Homo sapiens: one gene and its partner. The protein of the gene in region 2 purifies or fractionates together with the protein of the main gene of each other region. This does not show direct contact. Each region holds a gene or a part of one and is shown on either strand. Other genes may lie near its edges.

Region 1 (5,297 bases), on a different chromosome or scaffold from region 2:
CTACTCTTGCATAATCTGTTTTTGAAAAAGTAAATGACAGTATATTTCAATATTAGTTGGATTCTCTGCTTTGAAGAGATTCTTAAATTCCACTGCTCAACTTTGCAATTTTAAAAGTTTACATCAGTTGTTCTTAATTTATTTATTTATTTCTTTTTTTAGAGACAGGGTCTTGCCCTGTTGCCCAGGCTGGGGTGTAGTGGCACGATCACGGTTCACTGCAGCCTTGAACTTCTGGGCCCGAGTGATCCTTCTCCCACAGCCTCCCAAGAAGTTAGGACTACATGTGCATGCCACCATGCCTGTCTAATTTTTCTATTTTTTGTAGAGATGAGGGTCTCCCTGTGTTGCTCAGGCTGATCTTGAACTCCTGGCCTCAAGTGATCCTCCTGCCTTAGCCTCTCTAAGTGCTGGGATTACAGATGTGAGCCACCATGCCCTGCTTCTTTCTTAATTTCATGCATATACTTCTGAGGGTCCTTGGCTTCCCAGAAATCATATGCAGAATATAGCATATATTTGCTTTTTTCCTAGATAAAGACTCTGTTGGGTGATCACATTCTCAAAAGGATATGGGTCTGTAAAAGATTATGAACTTCTAGATATAAAATTAAAGAATACATATTCCATATTTGGAAAGCTAAAATTTTTAAATTACATTTGATGATTTATGTCCTTCATTTCTGATTATGCCCAAGAAATGTTTGTGATTAAGAGTTCAGCACATAGACGTTGTTTCTAACACATTCTCATTTAAATCGAAGGAAAATATTAATCCCATTTTACAGATGGGGAAATAGAACAAGTTGTTTTAAAGTCATACAAACACTGGTGGGCCAACATGTGAACCCAGACTGTCTGAAGTTAGAGCCAGCATTCATAAACAGGGTATACTAGACTTTGATCGGTAATACCATTTGATTGATGTTAAAATAAGTAATTGATGTTTTAGTTAGAATTGCAAAGTATATCTGAGATTATCATAGCATACAATATCATAAGATTTTAGAGCCCTGGACCCCCAGTATGAAGAGATCTTAATGATACTAACCTCTGTTAATGATGCTAGTCTGAAATCACACCCGAACTAGGGTCATTTCTACAGCATCTTTGGCAGGATCATCCACCTCTGATTTTAGTATTTCCTGTGATTACGAATTTCCCCTCTTCTTTTTTTTTTCTTGACCTTTTTTTTTTTTTCTTTTGAGATGGAGTCTTGCTGTGTTGCCCAGGCTGGAGTGCAGTGGCATCATCTGGGCTCACTGCAACTTCTGCCTCCCGGGTTTCGAGAGATTCTCGTGCCTCAGCCACCCAAGTAGCTGGGACTATAGACCCTCGCCACCACGCCTGGCTAATTTTTGTATTTTTAGTGGAGACGGGGTTTTACCCTGTTGGCCAAGCTAGTCTTGAACTCCTGAGCTCAAGTGGTCTGCCTGCCTCTGTCTCCCAAAATGCTGGTATTACAGGCGTGAGCCACCGTGCCAGGCCGTTTTTTTTTTTTTGTTTTTTTGTTTGTTTGTTTTTACATTTTAAATCTATATTTCTATTTATGTCGAGTCAAAATCTGCCTTCCTGATATTTACACTGATAAATCCAGTTCCCCCTTGGTGTGTGTGGTGTATTTATCATCCATGAAATGATTAAGAAATAAATGGCGACCGGGCATGGTGGCTCACACCTGTAATCCCAGCACTTTGGGAGGCCGAGGCAGATGAATCACCTGAGGTCAGGAGTTCAAGACCAGCCTGGCCAATATGGTGAATCCCCGTGTCTACTAAAAATACAAAAATTAGCTTGGCCTGGTGGTGTGCACCTGTAGTCCCAGATGCTCGGGAGGCTGAGGCAGGAGAATCGCTTGAACTGGGGAGGTGGAGGTTGCAGTGAGCTGAGATGGCGCCACCGCACTCCAACCTGGGTGACAGAGTGAGACTCCATCTCAAAAAAAAAAAAAAAAGAAATGGCTCCTACTTTAATTTTTTAGAGTAATGTTTATTGAAGCATAATTTACATGTAGTGAAAGTAAAAGTTTAACAAATGTCTATAATTGGATAGTCTCCACCACAGTCAAGACATAGAAAAGGACGTTTCCGTTACTCTAAAAAGTTCACTCATGCCCTGTCATGAGTCAGTCCTCTACCTCTACACTCCCAGCCCCTGAAAACCGTTAATTTAATTGATGCTCTTAAAGTTTTATCTCGTCTGGCATATATAAATGGAATTATACATTATGTAGCCTTTCGTGTTCCCTTGCACTTAGCGTAATGCTTGATATTTATTAAGTTGTTACATGTGTCAGTATTTTGTTCAGTGATGTGCTGGGAAATGTCTTAACAACATACTCTTCAGAAAAAAAAAAAGAATCTCTGATTTATAGCATTCGCTAATCATTGTAGTGTAAACACTGTCACTATGGCCTAAATTAAGCTACCAGCTTACAGAATTCCTGAAAATTTAACAATGGGCTCCCATGAGCTGGTACCAGCCAGCTCCAGCACAGTTCCTTTTTTTGTTGAGTAACATTGTTTTACACCAGGGTAACACAATTTGTTCATCCATTCATAAACTGATGGACATTTGAGTTGTTTCTAGTTTTGATCAAATATGAATAAAGCTGCTATAAACATTTGCATACAGGTCTATGTGAGGGACAAAAATGTTCAGTTTTCTTGAGTTAATACCTAGGAGTGGGATTTTTGAGTCCTAGGATAAGTGTATATTTATTAATATCAGTAACCTTTTTATTGAACTACTGAATTGTTTTCCTAAATGGTGATATCATTTTACATTCCTACAGCAATATCTGAGAGTTTCAGTTGCTTTACATCTTTATCAGCACTTGGTATTGTCAGTTATTAAAACTTTAGCCATTTATTATATGTGTAGTGATCTCCTTTAAATTTTTTTACTCTTATTTTCAGTAGTGTTTAGACTCAGTATAGAAAGTTTATGATAGATATTTATAAAAAAATAATTTTCTTTAGCTTGGGCATCAGTTATGATCTCACTATGAAGGCTGCAGCCTTTAAAGGCTGTTTGTTGAGTTTTTACTGTGCACTCATCTTTCATGTTGTTAAAATTACTTTTTGTAAAGGAATAATCATTAGGGAATTATTCTAATGCTTAGCTGTTAGCAATTTAAAAAATGAACCATTTTAAACAGGTAGATAAAGCTTTGTTTAGAAAATTAGAATTAAAAAATTTATCATAAAGAATTTTTTTTTTCAATTTTACTTGGACTTAAAGGGAAAAAAAGATTCTTTGTGGCTCCCTGTATGCCAACAATTTGCTTTGATGGGATTTCACCAAGTTCTGTAAACTCATTGAATTGTTCTTTATTTTAAAATCTTGAGGACTGTCAAGTTAGTTACTACTCTTTCTGAAACCACAGTATCAAAATCTTTTTTTTTTTTTTTTGAGACAGAGTCTTGCTTTTGTCACCCAGGCTGGAGTGCAGTGGCATGATCTCAGCTCACTGCAGCCTCCACCTCTCGGGTTCAAGCGATTCTCCTGCCTCAGCCACCCGAGTAGCTGGAATTACAGGCATCCGCCACCACGCCCGGCTAATTTTTGCATTTTTAGTAGAGACAGGGTTTCACCATGTTAGCCAGGCTGGTCTCGAATTCCTGACCTTGTGATCCGCCCGCCTCGGCCTCCCAAAAGTGCTGGGATTACTGTGCCTGGCCAAAATCTGTCTTTGAAATTTCACGTAGTTTTAGTGTGGACAAAGGATTAAATTACACATAGCTCATATCAACATTTAATTTTCAGTAGTAGAATACTGGGTTGCCCCGTTGGAATAAGATATCATTCATTCAGAAGATGATATGAAATAAAACCCTTAGAAGAGTAACCTGCCAGTTGCAGTGGCTCATATCTGTAATCCCAGCACTTTGGGAGGCCAAGGTGGGTGGATTGCTTGAGCTCAGAAATTCGAGACCAGCCTGGGCAACATAGTGAGACCCCTTCTTTTTTTTAAAATAAGAAGAGTACCTTGTAAAATACATAGTCATGTTAGACTGTAAATAAGAATAGCTATATTCACAGTTTGAGTACCCCGTAATAATGAAAGATGTTTGTTTAAACATCTCAACAGTTCTCACGGAAAATAGATAATTTGTTCAGTCATTGATTCATACATTTGTTCGTATACATACACGAATGTCTTGTGCATGTAGTATTCAAGGTCCTTATCATGATAGAGCTTACAGTTGAGTGGAAGAGACTGTTGAATAGGGTATCACATACGTGAGGTGTGGATGCTGTAGGTAGGTACATATGGTGTGGAGGTGGGGTGGGCATGGAACTCAGACTTCAAAGTTTGGAAGGACTTCCAGGAGGAAGCATTGTCTTCATTGAGAAATCTGGAGGTTGAGTAGTTAGGGGAAGTGGCTGTGTAGCATTAATAGAATGTGCAGTTATCCAGAGATGAGAGAAAATGCAAATAGCAAACATATCAGGAATATTATTTTCAAATAACAGGCCTCTAAAGCCTACATTTATTGCCCCTACCCAATCTCAGTTGAAATTAGGAAGGTTAATGGGAAGTAAAACTAGGGTAAAAACCAAAAAAACAAACATTTACTATACTATTGAGGTATTTTTTGGTAGTTTGCTTATTTCTAACATTCATAGACTGACATAATTCGATCATATTATCTTTGAACTCATCCCCAGATCTTGTAAGAAGCGTTAATATAGATAAGATTATAGCCTTCCTTTTTTAACATTTAGGCTAATTCTCATCTAATACTGTAATGTTTATTCCTAGTTAAGTGTATTTGATTTTTATTGCTGCCATGAAGTTCATCAAGTTTTGTTTGTGTGACAAGTATTAATGACATCTGAACCACTGATTTTTTGCTGGGATATGTCCAACTGCTGGTTTAGACATATCTGCTGAGATATTTACACAGGCATGTCAACCTCAGCATGGCCCAAATGTAACTCATAATCGTTCTTCCAAAATGTATTTTCTTCTCCTATCTCCTCAGCTTGAGTAAATGCTGTTAGCACCTGTTCTGTCACTAGATTGAGACTGGCAGTCATCATCCACTCCTCAGTCTTCCTCACGTCTCACATTTAATTAAGCATCAGGTCCAGTTGTTTTTATCTTCTAAATGTTTATCATTTTCAACCTCCACCTGCCAGAAGACAATTTTGGGGCCTGTATTTCCCTGCTGAAGTATTAGAGAGGTCTTTTAAATATTCTACTTAACTGCAGTCTCACGTCTTCTCATAGATTACCCTCACACTCTTTCCAAAATGAATTGTTTTTTGTTTTAATTTTTTAAAATGTG
Region 2 (6,069 bases):
GCAGGTGGCTGATTACCACAGTCTAAGAACTGATTAGAACAGCAGCTGTCACCCCTGACTGCTCGTTAGCGTCCCCTGGGGATGCCCCTGCCTCACTCTGATCAATCAAGTCAGAGTCTCTGGGGGCAGGTTCTAGGCATCAAGAGTTTTTATAACCAGCCCCCTACCACTCCCTAGGTAATTCAGGTATGCAACCAGGATGGAAAAACCACCTGATTAAAGGCAATCTGGTCTCCACTGTGCCACTAAACTGCTCTTGTCAAGGCCACCAGCAACCCCGATACTGGGAATCAGAAGGCTCTTCTGACCTCTTCGGAGGCTACCTCTCAGCAGCAGTTGATACAATTAACCAACATCTACTCCCCTTCTTGAATCAAATTTCTTTCCTGTGACCCCCGAACTTATCTGATTTTCCTGCCTCACTCAACTCTCCTTGCTAGTGACACCCCCTCTTCCAGGCTGCTAAATGTCTGTGAACCCCTGGCAGCTGTCCTGGCCCTCTGCCCTGTCTACCTGCTCATGCACACCGGGGGCTTTAAAACCATCCACAGGCCGGCCACTCCCAAACGGATGTCTTCAGCCCCAGATCCCCTTTATCCAGTCGCCTACTTGGCACCCACACTTGGACAGCCCCTAGGCTACTCAGGTGTAAGGGCAATCTGTTTCTCCAGTATTACCTGCCTAAGCTAATAGCATCTCCATTTTTGTTAGTCAAGCCTCAAACCCAGGAGTTGGCTTTATTCTTCTCTTTCCCTCACCTCGCCCTTCCCCGCCCCATATTTTTTTCATCATTTAATCCCAGTGGCTCCACCTCCACAGTAGAGAGCACAATCATTCACTGCTGTCTTCCTACAGCAGCCACCTTCATCGCTCACCTGGACTCCACTAGCCAGCCACCTGCTTCCACTCTCTTCCCCTGTAATCTTGGCTCCACAGAGAAGCCCTAGCAATCCTCGTCACCAGCAATTACATCATGCATCTCTCCCACTGAAAAACCCTTGGAAAAGGTTTCATCTAAGGATGAAAATCTTACCATGCCCTCCCATGTCACATCAAAAGGGCTCAAACTCACTCCGTCCTTAGCCCCTTCCCGGGTGACTCCCTGGTTTATGTTGTTCCAGCCAACCGGCCTCCTGCCTGCTCTGGGAGTGCACCAAGCTTACAGGGCTTAGCATTTGCTGTGGCTTCTGCCTGGGACTCTCCTCCCTCAACCCTTCACATGTCTGCCCTCTTCTCATCTTTCACGCACAGCTTCAGTGCCATCTCCCAGAGTCATCTAAACAACGGCCTCCTCTGTCACTTGAGTCGCTCTCTCCTTACACTCCTATCTGCTCCTCTCACAGTGGTTTTCATTTCAATGGCCAAATTATTGGTTTAATTCTGTTGTTTTATTAGCAACTCATTCACCATTTTAAAGAGGCAAATCCCTAACAGGGAAATTGTAAGTTATAAAGCAGCCCAAGTCCATGGCTTCCTCCAGGTCTAGAGAGCTTCCCACCCAAAATACAAAAACAGAGAGGGGGTGAGGCTGAACTCACACCAGGCAGCTCATTGGCCACTGAGTGCAGCACCTTGCAGCAGCTGGAGCCCCCAGCAGTGTGACTCCTGCAACAGAATGGGCCCCCACCCCTCCTCCAGACATCCCGAATGTCCATGCTGTTGTCCATGTAACACAATGACTCCATCATTATCAGTAACATGGTTAATGTGGACTCCCGTCAGCTGGGGATGGAGTGGCCAGCCTCAGCCTCATGTAACCCATTGTTTCCAAAGGGCTGCAGGCTGCAGAAGCCCCCAAGCTCTCAGGCCAGCTGTGGCTTCTTTGCTGAGATGGAGGTATAGCCAAGAAAGCAGCCTGAAAAGTAAGGACAGAAAATCAAGGCAAAGAGGGTGGGTGAACCAGGCCATACACGTCGGCCATGCAGCAGCAGCCCATCTTTCCCGAGGGATGGACTGAGGGCTTGGCTACTCCCCTGACCATAAATGGCTTGGCCAGGGTTCTCTTGGAGCCACCTCTCAGCCTGCCTCTGCAGCTTTGTCAGTTAACTGTTCCTACAAATGAAAGACACAAGCCAATAAAGCCAGTGAGAAAGGAGCTTACCAAAGGCAGTGTACGAAGAAGGTTCCTGGGAGACTGTCAGAAATGGTGAGTGAAAGCTGGCATCTCTTCTCAATCGAACTTTCATTTCTTACTATAAAAAACCTCCAAATTCAATTAAATGTACAATGAAGTAAAGGGACTTTATTTTAAATTATTTTCCTATATGCAAAATACCAATAATTTTTTAAACTTCTCACCTAATATTTGCTGATCTTGTCTTTCATTTTGGTATTAAGGTTTGTTTTTAAAACCCCACATACAAGAGTACAGAGTAGATGTTTCACCTATGTTCCCTTTCTAGTTGAAGCAATGGATCTAATCAACGATTTTATCTGTCTTACTTGTTTAATCTGGCTTTTTGTTCCATCATCAGCAACATGGATGGTCATCATTGATCAGAAATTTTCCATCTTTCTTGTTTACTTGTGATAAATATTTTGTTGTGACTCAATCAAATGAAGTTTGCTAAGTTAGAAGAGAAAACAAGAGGGTTCTGTGATTTACTAAAGAATTATGGAAACAGCCTAGGTGTCCATCAGTGGATGAATGGATAAAGGGACTGTGGTTTATATGTATATATACAACTGAATATTAGCTTTAGAATAGGAGGAGACCCTGCCATTTGCCATGTTTGTCCTATTTGGACCTGGAGAACATTATGCTAAGTGAAATAAGCCAGACACAAAAAGAAGAATATTGTGTAATCTCACTTTCTTGTGGAATTTTTTTTTTTTTTTTTTTTTTTTTTTTTTACAAAAAGCATTGTTAAAAGGAGTAGAGCTCAGTCTGTGGAGTTAGGGAGATCTGTGATCTAACCTGATCTCTACCACTTAAAAGCTGGTGAGCAAAAACCTATCTTGGTCTCAGTTTCCACAGGTATAATATAGGAATAATAGTGCTCCCTTCATGGGGAGGTTGTGAGTATGGGGTCTTATACCCAGCACACCTTCAACAGCAGTAAGTTTTTATCCTGTCTCTTCCTCCTTCCTCTCACAAACTGCAAACTTATAATGAAGGACGTTCAGCCACTGAGATCCCAAAATGCCTTCAGAATCATTGTGTAGATACTGCATAGTGCTCAGACTAGCAGTAAGCAATAATTGCATTGTATCCAATTCTAGTACTTTGACTATCACTAACTCATGCTTGCAATTCCATTCCACAAGAACTTTCCTATCCTTAGCTCTGTGCTGGCCAGGCCATAAAGAATATGCTACCACGTGATCCCTAAAACACAGAGGGTGTTTTACAGTTTGGGAGAAAGGAGCTGCCACAGATGACATTACGGTATTCCCTTGTGAAGTGGGCAAGGCAAGTTAATAGTATCCCATTTTGAGAATGGGAAAACTGAGCCTTGGAGAATAGATTTGTTGTGAGAAAATGGAGACCAGAGGGTTTGAGTGACTTATCCAAGACTACACAGCTCCTAAGTGGCTAAGTGTGGGCTCGAATTTAGATCAGGTGGCTCCAAGCTCAGGGTTGCATCATCCCACTCAGCTGTGTCTCTGAAGGGCACTGCATCAGATTCTTCTCCACCCTAATTTGTGCGATGTTTTTCTCTCCATGAGAGCACTGTACTGTGTTTCTACAAAATATGAGTGTCTTTCTGAAATTGGCCAAAATCTCCGTCATCCGAATGTTGATAAACAACACATGCAATGGCCCACTTGTTGCTGCACCCCCTCTTCTACTGTCCTCCCAAAGGAAGCTTTGTCTTAGGGCTGCTGACATCAGTCCTCAGTGCCCACTGATGAGATAAAGCTCTGGGCAGCTGCATTCAGTGCAGCGACCATCCAGTGTCCTTGCAGCACGTGTTGGTCTGGTGCTAGCGTGAAGAGCAGTGGTTAGGTCCCTTGAGCAAGAGGACCCTGACCTAAGAGGCCCAGACGTCCCTGTGTTCCACCGTCATCCCAGAAGCAGAGGTGCACAGTGCTGTCAGCCTGGGTGCTCTGATTCATCCACAGAGACTACTGGAGTTGCTTGGAAGCCTTGCAGAGTGGTGGAAAGAGGTTGTCACCGGGACACTCAGGTTCTGGTGACAGCTAAGTAGTTGTTTGGACTTGGGAAACCTGTTCAAATTCTTGAGGCTTGGTTATTCTCTATAAAATGCGGGTGTCCTATTGCCAAGAGGGGGAGAAGTGAGCAGAGGCACCACTGAAGCGTGCTAGTTGAGCAGGGCCACGTTGATTGAAGGACATAATATTTGGGGCAAAAGCTAGGGGGACTTACACATTCTAGGTGCTTAAAACACTTCTGGTTCACAAAAGATTTTCTTGTTCATTAACCCATCTGAATTCCAATCCATCAGTAAGTCAGCTGAAATAGGTGTTTTGTCAGTTTGCTTCTGTTGGGATGAGATCCTCTGTTACCATCTTTCGGGTTGGGGTTGAGTCACATAGACTGCGGCCCATTGGCTGGTCTATGTGGCTCCAACTGTTCTCATTTGTCCATGAGGTGATTTCTGATAAGTCCCTGGGTTTCAGTTTCCTCTGCTGGAAAATGAGGGTTTTGAGAGAGATGATCTTTCAGGTAATTCAGGTGTGAAACATGATTCTTTTGGATTCTTTAATGTTTCACAACTTTCCTATTGTTGGATAACATTTAATTTTAAAACTTAATGAATGCATTGTTTCTACAATGACAGAATCTGGTCTTGGGATGCTGGAAAGACGGGAAGCTGTGGTGTAGACCAAGCCCAGGGAAATATCTGGGGGTCAGGGAGACCGAGGCTGAAGGAGGGCCCAGCCAGGAGGTATTAATCCAGGGTGGCTGGACCCAAGGGGCTGAGAGTCCAGAAAGTGGGAACAAGACCACTTCCACCCAGGGAAAGAGGGGAAAATAGTTTCACTGGCTGAGTCAGAACAGGTCCACCCATCATTCCAATCTAGGTAGGGAAAGGACTTGGTAAGGAGCAGCCTGGAAAGGCTAGAGTAACAGGGGCTAGGGACAGGGAGGAGAAAGGAGCCACCTGAGGCCCTGGGCAGGCTACTTGGTGCTCCACTGAGCCCACGATCTTTAAATTTGGACTCCATATTTGCGGGAGAGGTGAGACCATCTACTAAGTGAGGGGAGGAAAGAGAAGGGTTTGCTGTTCCCCTGTCCTCCTGGCCACTTCAGCTCCAGCAACCTAGAACCTCTGCCTCAGTTGTAGCAAAAACAGAAGCCTTGCCTTCCCCGGGTAAGGATCAGGTGTTCTTGTTAGACCATGCCCTTTGGGGGTCTTACCTTCTACTCCAAGGAGAAAACACAAAATACTTCTAAATTCAACAGTTTTCTGTCTCAAAGGAGTTCTAGAGGGAATAAACATAATTTTAGCCTTTTGCTGAATTTCTAGTCATGTGTTTGCTGCCCTTGTGAATGGGACCCCTCAGACAATAGCCTTGCAGGCTGCCTCTTCATCTGATCCTGGTCGAGGACCTGGTTGGGGGCGGTGGCAAGACTGACTTGATGCTGAGGGAGGAACTCATGACAGGCTCCTTGCCTCCCCTTCCTTCTTTTGGGGCCAAGACTGTGCAGGACGATGGGGGCTGGCTGAGTCTATAGGATCAATGACCTCTCGGAATCCACCAGGGTCAGTGAGTTTGAGGAAGTGAGGAAGGAGCTTGCTGACCATCCCTGGGAGCTTTAATGTTTACTTCTATCTTGCAGAGTTTTTCACTGAACTTCACCCTGCCGGCGAACACAGTAAGTACAGCAGCCCCCATTCACCAGGCAACGCAGAGAAGACCAGTGCAGAATTTACAGTAGGTCTCCAGAACTCACATAAACCCCTCACACACGGTGATAAGTTACACAGACTTTCTTTTTTTTTTTTTTTTTTTTTTTTTTTTTTTTTTTTTTTTGAGACAAGGTCTTGCTCTGTCACCCAGGCTGGAGTGCAGTGGCATGATCTCGACTCACTGCAACTTCCACCTCCTGGGTTCAAGCGATTCTCCTGCCTCAGCCTCCTGAGTAGCTGGGATTACAGG

The links. Proteins that work in one complex are often made in the same cells at the same time.
Region 1: the proteins of OPALIN (region 2) and WDFY3 purify together in Homo sapiens (co-immunoprecipitation; 2 studies listed by BioGRID and IntAct, with this or other methods). This does not show direct contact.

Annotation. Positions count from the first base shown.
Region 1 is NC_000004.12:84,959,333-84,964,629, reverse strand, and holds part of WDFY3 (WD repeat and FYVE domain-containing protein 3), read left to right. Parts: intron 1-5,297. UniProt on the Homo sapiens protein: Required for selective macroautophagy (aggrephagy). Acts as an adapter protein by linking specific proteins destined for degradation to the core autophagic machinery members, such as the ATG5-ATG12-ATG16L E3-like ligase, SQSTM1 and LC3.
Region 2 is NC_000010.11:96,354,971-96,361,039, reverse strand, and holds the start of OPALIN (opalin), read left to right. Parts: upstream 1-2,037; 5' UTR 2,038-2,143; coding exon 2,144-2,146; intron 2,147-3,880; exon of another isoform or gene 3,881-4,130; intron 4,131-5,749; coding exon 5,750-5,785; exon of another isoform or gene 5,786-5,844; intron 5,845-6,069. UniProt on the Homo sapiens protein: Central nervous system-specific myelin protein that increase myelin genes expression during oligodendrocyte differentiation. Promotes oligodendrocyte terminal differentiation.